Linked DNA regions of Homo sapiens. The protein of the gene in region 3 interacts with the protein of the main gene of each other region in a pairwise test. Each region holds a gene or a part of one and is shown on either strand. Other genes may lie near its edges. The genes, in order: KLHL2, CTNND2 and TBKBP1.

What was found.
Region 1: the proteins of TBKBP1 (region 3) and KLHL2 interact in a two-hybrid assay, tested with the Homo sapiens proteins (one study listed by BioGRID).
Region 2: the proteins of TBKBP1 (region 3) and CTNND2 interact in a two-hybrid assay, tested with the Homo sapiens proteins (one study listed by BioGRID).

The regions. Positions count from the first base shown.
Region 1 is NC_000004.12:165,315,467-165,319,218, forward strand, and holds part of KLHL2 (kelch-like protein 2), read left to right. Parts: intron 1-2,359; coding exon 2,360-2,503; intron 2,504-3,752. UniProt on the Homo sapiens protein: Substrate-specific adapter of a BCR (BTB-CUL3-RBX1) E3 ubiquitin ligase complex that mediates the ubiquitination of target proteins, such as NPTXR, WNK1, WNK3 and WNK4, leading most often to their proteasomal degradation.
Region 2 is NC_000005.10:10,973,773-10,977,524, reverse strand, and holds part of CTNND2 (catenin delta-2), read left to right. Parts: intron 1-3,752. UniProt on the Homo sapiens protein: Has a critical role in neuronal development, particularly in the formation and/or maintenance of dendritic spines and synapses. Involved in the regulation of Wnt signaling.
Region 3 is NC_000017.11:47,697,111-47,700,862, forward strand, and holds part of TBKBP1 (TANK-binding kinase 1-binding protein 1), read left to right. Parts: coding exon 1-83; intron 84-1,484; coding exon 1,485-1,665; intron 1,666-2,209; coding exon 2,210-2,385; intron 2,386-2,525; coding exon 2,526-2,587; intron 2,588-3,752.

The DNA.
Region 1 (3,752 bases), on a different chromosome or scaffold from region 3:
TAATCAGGAAGAGAGAGAAATCTGAAAGCTTACTTTTCAGTTTGTTTTTCCTTCTCAATCAATGATGTTTATTTTCTATGCAAATAACAAAATTTGAATTATTTACTTCTATAATTTACAAGATACAGTATAATCCAATTGAGCATATATTTTAAAATTATTTAAGTTCATAAGAGTATTTTAAAATCTCACCCTCATTCCATATTCCTGATAATCTGAAACAAACTTCTGATAAGATCTGTTCAGCTCTTCCTTTTTAATAACCTAGGCTAAGGACCTCATCCAAGCACCTAAATTATTGGAAAGAAAGAACTAAGCTGGCAAAGAGTGGAGGACATGTATTCAATGTTAAGCGGGGAGAGGTGAAAGCATCCATATAAATTTGAAATAGCAAGCAGCTTACAAGCCAGATTTCAAAAGTTTTCATAAGTATGGTAAATTATGACACCAAGAGTGGAGTAAAAATGAAATAAATTTGAATTAGATGATTATATATAGACCTTTAATACCTAGCACATCTGTAATAGGTTCTCAATATGAATTTGATTGTGTTGAAGTAAACTGAATAAACTGGAACCATCAAACACTGCAGGAAGGTGCATCCTTTTGGCAAAGTGATTTGGCTCCTATCGCCTAAAAGGAATCTGGTGTTGTGAGTTAGTGGGTTAGTAAAATTGATGTCTTCTGAATGTATAGCTAAGATATTCAAATGGATGTATGGACCAACCTCCCTTTCTGCAGTGGGATGCTCTTTAATCTGTGAGCCCCTCATAGATATGATTGGGAAAACTCTTTAGAACAATATAGTCTCCTTGTTCATGCCTTCCATCATAGCAGGGCCATTTTTGAGATCATTTTTTCTCTCACAGTCCTATGTTGTCCATCAATAGGCTGAAATACAGTGTTGCATACACATGTAACTACTGTGTGGAGCTTGTGTGGCAGCAGCATTTGATTCTTGCTTTTAAGTATTTGAACAACTTTAAAATGGTATGAGTTTTTTTCCTACAAAGTTTTGTAGATTTGGGCAGCATTATTCGGGATTCTTTGATGCCCTCTAGTATAAGTTCATAGTAGCACTGAACTTTTTATAAGAAATTAAATGTACTTTTAAAAAATTACATTGAAATAGCTTTTTAAAAGCATTTACCATTAGACTCAGCAGTTTTCCTTCTAATAATTTATATTAAGAAAAATTGCTCAAGTATTCAAAACACTGTTCAGGGGATCTTTGTTCATTGCAACATCATTGGTAACAGCAAAAAAATCAAAATTACTTAAATATCCATCAGTAAAAAAATGATTAAATAAACTGTCATACATAAAAATTACATTTATATTTATTAACTTGAGGAAATGTCCAAGGTAGGTTGGTTGGCCAGGGTGGGTAAGTTATTTAATAAAGTAGCATGTGTAGTGTGAGCTACTTTGGGGTTAAAAAAGAAAGTGTCTGAGTATATATGCATGGAGAAAAGTTAGCCAGAGTAGAGATCAAAATTTTAATGGTCATTATTCTAAGAGACATAAGGTTGGAGGTCATCTTTTTTTCTTATAATACTTTTCTAGATGTTTTGAATTTTTGCAAAGAAAAGAGTTATTTTAATAGATAAATAATATTGTTCTCTTTAAAGGGAGATAAAATAGCTAACCATTCAGTGTGATAATTAAAATTAAGAATATTTTTACCTTCTACTAACATATATTTTCTTCCTTAAGATTCCCTAAGTAGCTGACTTTGACTTTTTATTAAAAAAAAAAAAATGAGGGTCAAAATAGTTTCTAACCTATAATGTTGTGAAAATTAGGTAGAATAATGCATATATAAAGTAACTACTGCATAAATGACACTCAGTAGGAGCTTAGAAGTGGTATTATGGTCTCCTAATATAGAAAGAATTCTTTTTTTTTTTTTTGGAGACAGAGTCTCACTCTGTTGCCCAGGCTGGAGAGCAGTGGTGTGGTCTTGGCTCTCTGTAGCCTCTGCCTCCCTGGGTTCAAGTGATTCTCCGGCTTCAGCCTCTTGGAGTAGCTGGGACCACAGGCACACTCCCCCATGCCTGGCTGATTTTTGTATTTTTAGTAGAGATGGGGTTTTGCCATGTTGCCCAGGCTCATCTCGAACTCCTGACTTCAAGTGATCTGCCCACCTTGGCCTTCCAAAGTGCTGGGATTACAGGCGTGAGCCATGGTGCCTGGCTATCCTAATATAAAACGAATTCTTTTCATGCTCACTATTTTCTCTTCTTGCCTCCTTTCAAAGAAATTAGTGTCTCTGGATTACCTCACTAAACATGTACAGTGATACTCATATTCATCCCAATTTTTTAAATAATTGTTTTCTCTCTGTAATTTTTTAAAGGAGTTTGTGCAGTTAATGGTCTGTTATATGTTGTTGGAGGGGATGATGGTTCCTGTAACTTGGCGTCAGTAGAATATTATAACCCAACAACCGATAAATGGACAGTTGTGTCATCGTGTATGAGCACAGGGAGAAGTTATGCAGGTAACAGTTGTCTCTAAAGTCAATTTCCGTACAAAAAGATGACCTCATTATGAATGTTATATTAACGAAGTTTTTCTGTTATAAGAATAAAGTCTTTTCTCAAGGTATAGTTTATATCTTATTCTTAAGATGATTAACATTGGCTGTGTATATTCTGAAATAAAGCACCAGTATACTTTTGTCATTCTACAGTCATTTGTATTCAAAATCCCAAATCTTTGATATACAAAATCATATAATAAAATTTAATGTAGCTAAAATCTGTATGCAGAGGAGAAGAATTCATATGTGGCAAGGCTTTAATTCCTGAGATGTCCAAGAAATAGGATAGGATTCCTACATCTCCCCATGGTGTGGCTCCATGAGATAGTATTATAGTGAGGCTGTGGAATAATTTTTCTTTCTTAAGCATAGTACTGGTTGAGTTATAAAATGTGATTTTTTGGTCCATTCTCTTAGTAAGATAAATGTTAATTTTAATAAATATTATGGTGAGTCTTTATGTTATTTATTTCAATTATATTTATCTTGCTTTTAATAGTATAATGTTTCTGTAACAAAATTGATCCAATAGTGGAGGAAGAAAATGTTTAAGCTCATTAACCATCACTGTTGCTTATGTATCATTCAAAACAGTACTGAGAAGAACTATGTACAGTAGAATTCCAGTATAACATGGGTGAATATTAGATGAATTTTTAAAACAACTTCATTGAGGTATAAACTGACAGAATACATAGCGTACAGTTGACCCTTGGACAACACAGGTTTGAACTGTGTATGTCCACTTACATGTGGATTTTTTTCAATAATTATGTTGGAAAAATTTTTTTGGAGATTGGTAACAGTTTGAAAAAACTCAGATGCACTGCATAACCTAGAAATATTGAAAAAATTAAGTTTAAGATTATGAACACATAAAATATACGTAGATACTAGTCTGTTTTATCATTTACTACAAAATATCTACAAATCTGTTACAAAAAGTTAAAATTTATCAAAACATATGCACACAAACTCTTATGGGAACAAACACCCACAAACCATAGATGGTGTCATTCACAGTCCAGAGAAATGTGAACAAACCACAAAGATACAATATTAAATCATAACTGCATGAAATTAACTGTAGTATGTTACTGTACTACTATAATAATTTTATAGCCGTCTCCTGTTGCTGTATTGGTGAGCTCAGCTGTTGTGAGTATCCACTTAAAAAGCTGTGGGGGGCTAATTACCTTTGAAAGAG
Region 2 (3,752 bases), on a different chromosome or scaffold from region 3:
GCCATAATTGCACTACTGCACTCCAGCCTGAGTGACAAAGCGAGACCCTGTCTCAAAAAAAAAAAAAGACTTAACTATGCATACTTTCCAAACATCCTTTTGAGCTTCTACCAGTCCACCCCATAATTACAAAGAGAAATATCATGTTGAACGGTATCTATCTAGCTGACAACAGGATTTTTGTTCAGGAACTAGAAACAAAGAGCTTTGCTGTTTTGATGACCAATATTTAAATGATAACAAAACCGGAATCTTGAGTTCCTTCCTGGTGTCCTTAGTTCCACTGTCACGTGAGCAGGCCAGTTGTAATTGTCTGCAGAAATGAGGAAGATGAGATCCCAGGAGGATACGTGTTTCCTTCAGTCCCCCAGCCAGGAAGAGGCAAATACTCATCTTGGTTCTTCTGTCTTCCTGTCCCATTTTTTTTACCTCTGTGCCAATGGTTCTCAAATTGGAGCATGAGCCAGAATTCCCCAAAGGGCTGTTAAAGCACAGATTGCTGGGGCCCATCGCCAGAGGCCCTGATTCAGTAGGTCTGGAGTGGGACCCAGTAATCTGCATTTCTAACAAGTTCCCAGGTGATGCTGATGCTGCTGGTCTTGGGATTATGCTTTGAAGACCACTGATACTTCATATCTGGCCTCCTTCATTTTCTGTGAACACTCTGAGTCTTTCTATGAACACTCTGAGACATGGAAAAGTTGGAAGAGCTATACTGGGCTACTATTTCCCTTGTGTTCAAAATAAATCCAGTTTCCTGGCAAATTCATTAAGGAATAAACCCAAAGAAGTCTTTTGTCATTATGCTAACAGAGTTGGAAGGTGTCATGACACTATCCTTCATAATTTAGAGTGAATATTCTACTGTTGAGGAAAAAGTTCAGCAAAGATGACTTGGTAGAAACAGAAGCCATGGAACAGAGCGCAGAGAGCGTGAGCATATTGACCCTGGAGTGAGCTGCTGGTCACCACCCCTTTCCAAAACAAGATGCAGCGTTAAGGCAAAGAAGGCAAAAGCTTCGGGCTTGCGTATTCCTGGGCTTCTCTAGACCGTAACAGACACCCAGATTCAGAAATCCCCTCTGCTCTATTGGGGCATCATTCTACATCCCTCATCCAAATCTGGCTGATGCAAACTGTGCAATTTTTAATGCATTTATTTTTAGCTCTTATGTGAGGAGGGCTTTGGGAGGGGTCATTTCATCAGCCAGATTTTCAACTGTCAGATATTCCCTTAAAGTTTAAAATGCAGCCAATATTCCTCCACTGTGGATGTGTTTCACCAGCAAACGTCCATACCACAAGAGCAAATACCACAAGACGTCCATACCACAAGAGCAAATACCACAAGATACCACAAGAGCAAATACCACAGAAATGTCCATACCACAAGAGCAAATACCACAGTGAGCAAATTCTGTCTCTCCGGGTGCAGCAGTGACACGTGTCACCTGTGACAGTTCATTTGTACACACTTTTGGGACTGGGGCACCAAACCTCAGAAGTGATTGGTGTGGGATTTTATGAACAGTACAGATGAATGAAGAAGTTAATTCTCTGGGGTAAGAGGCTGAAAAAGCTGATACCCAGCTCCCAAATGTTCACCAACCAGAGAGAACATGACAACAGTCAAAGCAATTTGAACGAGGTTGTGCAAAAGAACCAAAAAAATGAAAGCAGAAGCCACTTTGGAGGAGAGCTATAACCCTTGTGAGTGACTCCTCCTGAAGATGTCCCTGTCCCCTGCACTGCCTTCCCTGGCCCCCAAAAATCCATAAGAAAACACACCGCTTCTTGGTCTCTTTTGTCCACCGACTTTCTTATCTTAGAGCCTAGAGTCAGCTCCTTGAGGCCTGTCCTCCAAGGTTTGGCCACCTTGGCTCTGATGGGACTGGACTACGTTGGTAGAACACCTGGGTTTTAGAGTCAGCCAGCCGTATGTTCCAGTTCCAGTTCACAACACCACTAGCTATGACGTTTTGGAGAAGTTTCTTAACTTCTCTGTGCTTCAGTTTTCTCATCTATAAGGTGGGAGTTTGCTTGAGGGATGGATGGATGGATGGATTGGTGGGTGGATAGGAAGACAGACAGATGATAGATTATAGATATTGATGTAGACAGACACAAACACACATAAATATTTATGACTACTGGAGTATTAAAGAATTTGCTAAATGTTGAATAGGGTGCCCTGCTGAACAAGAAACACAGCAAATCTAGTTCCCTCCCTGTATAATTTTTCCAAACTTCTAGATTCTGAGCCTTTGCATGTCTTGCACTTGGAAAACAGCCCTGTGTTGGAGTGGAGTTCAGCAGCACACAAGCAGAGCTCTTCAAAGAATAGCAAAGGGCACCCCAACCTAGCAACGCAGTCCAGTAGACCTGGACTTAGCAGTATTTAATTGCAGATGTTGCACATTCATTCCAAATGTTCCTCTCATCCTTTGTTAGCTCTCAGGCTAACAAAGGTTTATCCTCTATGGACTTTTGGACTTCTGTAGGTAGACAGAAACCTCATTCATTCAGCTACCACTAACTAGACACGTGGGACATCCTAGACAGCTGCTGTGATGAAGTTCACCACTTCTTTGAAGATCAGGTTGATTACTAGTATAAATCAATGACATATATAAGAGGGAGTTTCACTTACTTGAGAGAAGAATTATGTGTAAGCCTTTAAAAGCATTCATTTACACACAACGTGCTAATTACAAATCATTATCTATTAACTAAGACCAATTTCTAGAGAACGTTTCCGTGCTGAACTTTAGTTAAATTAATAGGGAGTCACTGAGTCCACCCAAAAGTGATCAAACAGTATTTCTTTAAGAGTGTTTAATAATTCACACCAGATCTCCTCCCCAATTACTGCACATTAGCAGAGCTTTGTGCATCCCGGTATGCACTTGCTGTAGGGTTAACCTCACCCTATACCTTGGGAGGTTCTGCTCATTTCAGGGGCAGGTGCTTGAAAAGGGACCCCAGGGACTAGAACAGATACAAATGCACCAATGTTTATTGCAACATTATTTACAGCAGCTAAAAGGTAAAAATAACCCAAGCGTCCATCAATGGATGAATGGATAAATAAAATGTGGTCTATGCATACCATGGACTATTTTATTCTTATATATATACAATCATGGGGGTGCAAGTGCAGTTTTGCTACATTGAGGTAAAGTCATGGCCTTCAGTGCATTCATCAGTGGAGCAATGCACATCATACAGTGGAATATTATTCAGCCACAAAAACGGATCAAGGTCTGCCATGTGCAACACCATGGATGGACCATGCAAACTTTATGCTAAGTGAAAGAAGCCAGTCACACAAGGACAAACACTCTCTGCAGTGCCTATATTAGGCAGATTTCTAGAGACAGAAAGTAGAATGGTGCTTGCCATGGGCTGAGAGAGAGGGGATGAGGAATTACATTTAATGGGCACAGAGTTTCTGTTTGGGATGATTTAAAAAGTGGTGGAAACGGATGGTGGTGATGGTTGCACAACACTGTGAATGTTCTTAATGCCACCTAATTAATCTTACACTTCAACATTTCTTAAAGCAAGCTGTTTTATGTTATGTATATTTTGCCATGATAAAGATTATGTAGAATGATAGCACGTGGACCTAGGATCCAATTTTCAAAAGGAAAGCCAATGACAGTTGGCAGTTTTGGAGAAGCAGGGCCACAGTGGTGAATGCCTGGATATACACAGCCTATTCTTTGAAGGAGAGTTGGGTGCCGGGGCAA
Region 3 (3,752 bases):
AAGAACAGCTTGGAGAGATGATCCAGGCCTACGAGAAACTCTGCGTGGAGAAGAGTGACTTGGAGACAGAGCTGAGGGAGATGGTGAGGCCTGGGGAGCCGGAGGTGCTTGAGGATGTGTAGCTGGTTGTGTGTGTGCATGTGTGCATTTAGTTCTGTGTGTGAGGATTCCAGCCTGTGACAGTGCAGTCCCATGTGTCACACATCACTTGTTTGTGCCCTGCTTGTGTTCATGTGTATCTGTGAGTGCCCGCCCATTTGCCCTTGTGAGGGAGACTGCATGTGTTATCCATGTTGCGGTGTCTGTGTGCATCCTGGCCATGCAGTGGCCCCGTGGGAACCTCTGTCTCTGTGTGTATGCCTGGCTGTCACGCTGGGGTGACCCTGTGCCTGTGAGCACTGCCCTGGCTCTCACGCTGGGGTGACCCTGTGCCTGTGAGCACTGCCCTTGGGAGGCTGTGAGGGTGAGGGCAGAGGTGACCAGGAGTGTGTGACTGCTAGGATGGGCCTGTGCTTGGGTGTGCTTCCGAGTCAGGGTATGGCTGTGCCGGTGAGCAGGTCAAAATCAAGAGACAGGCCAGGTATGGTGGCTCACGCCTATAATCTCAGCACTTTGGGAGGTTAAGGAGTTTGAGACCAGCCTGGGCAACATAGTGAAACCCCATCTCTACAAAAAATACAAAAAAGAAGTTAGCCAGGTGTGGTGGTGCACACCTGTGGTCCCAGCTACTCAGGAGGCTGAGGTGGGAGGATCGCTTTAGCCCAGGAGATCGAAGCTTTGGTGAGCCAAGATCAAGCCACTGCACTCCAGCCTGGGTGACATAGCCAGACCCTGTCTCCAAAAAAAAAAAAAAAAAAAAAAAAAATCAGGAGACATGGTCTCAGCCAACCCTAAGCTATGACCTCAGTTAAGTCACTTAGCCTCCATCCCTCCTCTGAAAAGTGGGGCAAATATTAACACCCTCACCAGGTTGTGGTGAGGGTGATGGGGCATTCATGTATAGATGCTTTGCCTTCATAATCATAGATATTTATGTGGCACTCGGGGTGTGCCAGGCACTGTTCTTTTCACCTGGCATACACTAGCTCATTTTAATTCTCAAAACAACCCTAAGAGGTGAGTGTGGGACTGTTATCCCCATTTTATGGATCAGGTGGGTGAAGTCCAGAAGCTCTTGTCATGTATGCAAATGGAAGTTCTGATGCTCCTGAGGGGGGCTGGCCTCCAAACAGGGGGCTGAGTGTTCTTTTAAGTGTCCCTGTGTGTTAATGACAGAGCAGGGGCATTAACTTGACCTCGCCAGGGGCAACAGCCCGCAACAGCTGCATTGCGGTGGCTGAGAGGAGACTTTGCACTCACAGCCACTTGGAGAGTGGGCTTGGGATGTGTGACCTGGGGCCTCTGCTGTAGTCTGGGGTGATGACTCTCCAGACATGGGGAAGTCCTGGGCCTGTGCAGACCCTCCCCTCTGTCTCTCTCTCCAGAGGGCCCTGGTGGAGACGCACCTGCGTCAGATCTGTGGTTTGGAGCAGCAGCTGCGGCAACAGCAAGGCCTCCAGGATGCAGCCTTCTCCAACCTGAGCCCACCGCCAGCCCCCGCCCCTCCCTGCACTGATTTAGACCTGCACTACCTGGCACTGAGAGGGGGATCTGGCTTGAGTCATGGTGAGATCTCAGTGACCCCGACTTACCTCCTAGTCCCCAACCCCCATTTCAACATTCCTAGACACCTCGCACTTACTTACCATCCCATTTGTAATATAATCTATTTCTCCATAATCATCCCATCCTCCCTTACCTGCTGTCCCCTCACCTCACCCACTGTTACCCTAATTTCTCCCCTTCTAACTCGGTCATTCCTGATCACCTCGTTGCAATTCCTGTGCCTGCCAGCAGAGGGCGCCCCCACCCAGAGTCCCCCCGCCCCGTCTCTGGCTGTGACTAGGAGAGGCCCTTGCAGATGCTCTAGACTTGAGTCTGGCCAGTAAAGCCTTCAAGAGCCCATCTTATTTTTTTCCTGGCCTCCAGGAAAATTAGAAATGCGGCTCAGCCCATCTTTCCTCGCTGCCCTTGTCGCAGTCATCCCTCCTTGGCTAGCTGTCCTGGCTTCTCTCTTGGAGTCCCCATGCTGCATCCTCCTGTTTCACTCTGGCTCTGGGAGCTGGAGGAGGCAGCTGAGCTCGCCTGACGTTGTCCTGTCCACCGACAGCAGGCTGGCCGGGCTCCACACCCAGTGTGAGTGACCTGGAGCGGCGGCGGCTAGAAGAGGCTTTGGAGGCCGCGCAGGGAGAGGCCCGGGGGGCTCAGCTCCGGGAGGAGCAGCTCCAGGCCGAGTGCGAGCGGCTGCAGGGGGAGCTGAAGCAGCTGCAGGAGACCCGGGCCCAGGTAAATGCAGGGGCCTGGAACAGCTTCTGGAGGTCCAGGGCTGGGCCTTCCCCACTGTGTGCAGACTGGCCCAGGGAACTGTAGACAAGGGCCCTGGCAGGGGTGAGCTTGGGCTCTGACCTCTTCATCTTCTTCCTTAGGATCTGGCCTCCAACCAGTCGGAGCGAGACATGGCGTGGGTGAAAAGAGTTGGGGATGATCAGTAAGTCACATTGGTAACCCTGGTCCCTCCGTGATGTTTGGGAGACCTCCCCTCCCAGCCCTCAGGGGTGTGGTGTCTGGGCTGCTGTTGCTCTGTGTGCATCCTTCATAGGAAGGAGGTGGGGTTCTTTTTTTTTTTTTTTGAGATGGAGTTTCGCTCTTGTTGCCCAGGCTGGAGTGCAATGGCGTGATCTTGGCTCACCGCAACCTCTGCCTCTCGGGTTCAAGCAATTCTCCTGCCTCAGCCTCCCGAGTAGCTGGGATTACAGGCATGCACCACCATGCCTAGCTAATTTTTTTTTTTTTTTTGAGACGGAGTCTTGCTCTGTCACCCAGGCTTGAGTGCAGTGGCGCAATCTCGGCTCACTGCAAGCTCCGCGTCCTGGTTCACGCCATTCTCCTGCCTCAGCCTCCTGAGTAGCTAGGACTACAGGCGCTCGCCACTACGCCTGGCTAATTTTTTTTTGTATTTTTAGTAGAGATGGGGTTTCACTGCGTTAGCCAGGATGGTCTCGATCTCCTGACCTTGTGATCCGCCCGCCTCGGCCTCCCAAAGTGCTGGGATTATAGGAGTGAGCCACTGCGCCCGGACCTTTTTTTTTTTTTTTTTTTTTTTTTTTGGATTTTTAGTAGAGATGGGGTTTCTCCATGTTGGTCAGGCTGGTCTCGACTCCTGGGAGGTGGGGTTCTTGAGTGTTTGGGATCTGGGACATTCCCTTTGCTTTCCTCTGGGGCCCAAACCCATCTCTTCTGGAGATGCCAGGGCTAAGTGACACTTACTCGGCTGCTTTGTCGCTGTGTCCAGTGTAATGTCCCCTGCTGAGCTTTTGGGCCTCCGTAGGGCCCCATTTTCTATTCCAGTGACAAGGCCCGGCCAGTTGGGTTCACCCTCCCCTCCCTAGTGAGGAAGAGGGAGGTGGTGTTTCTTGGGATTTGTTGGGCCTTGTCTGCTGATCTCAGGAGAGAGAAGCCTGAGGCTTAGAGACAGGAGAGGTTTCCATGGGTTCACACAGCCGTGGGGTGGGGAGTTAGAATCTGCTCTGCTAGGGTACTCCCTTGAATCCTACCAAGAAAGGGGCAGCAGAGAGCGGCAAGGGAGCTGTGTTGGTGGGGGGCCCAGTGCTGGGGCCTCCAGGGGGGCACTGGACAGCAAGGGAGGGGTGAGC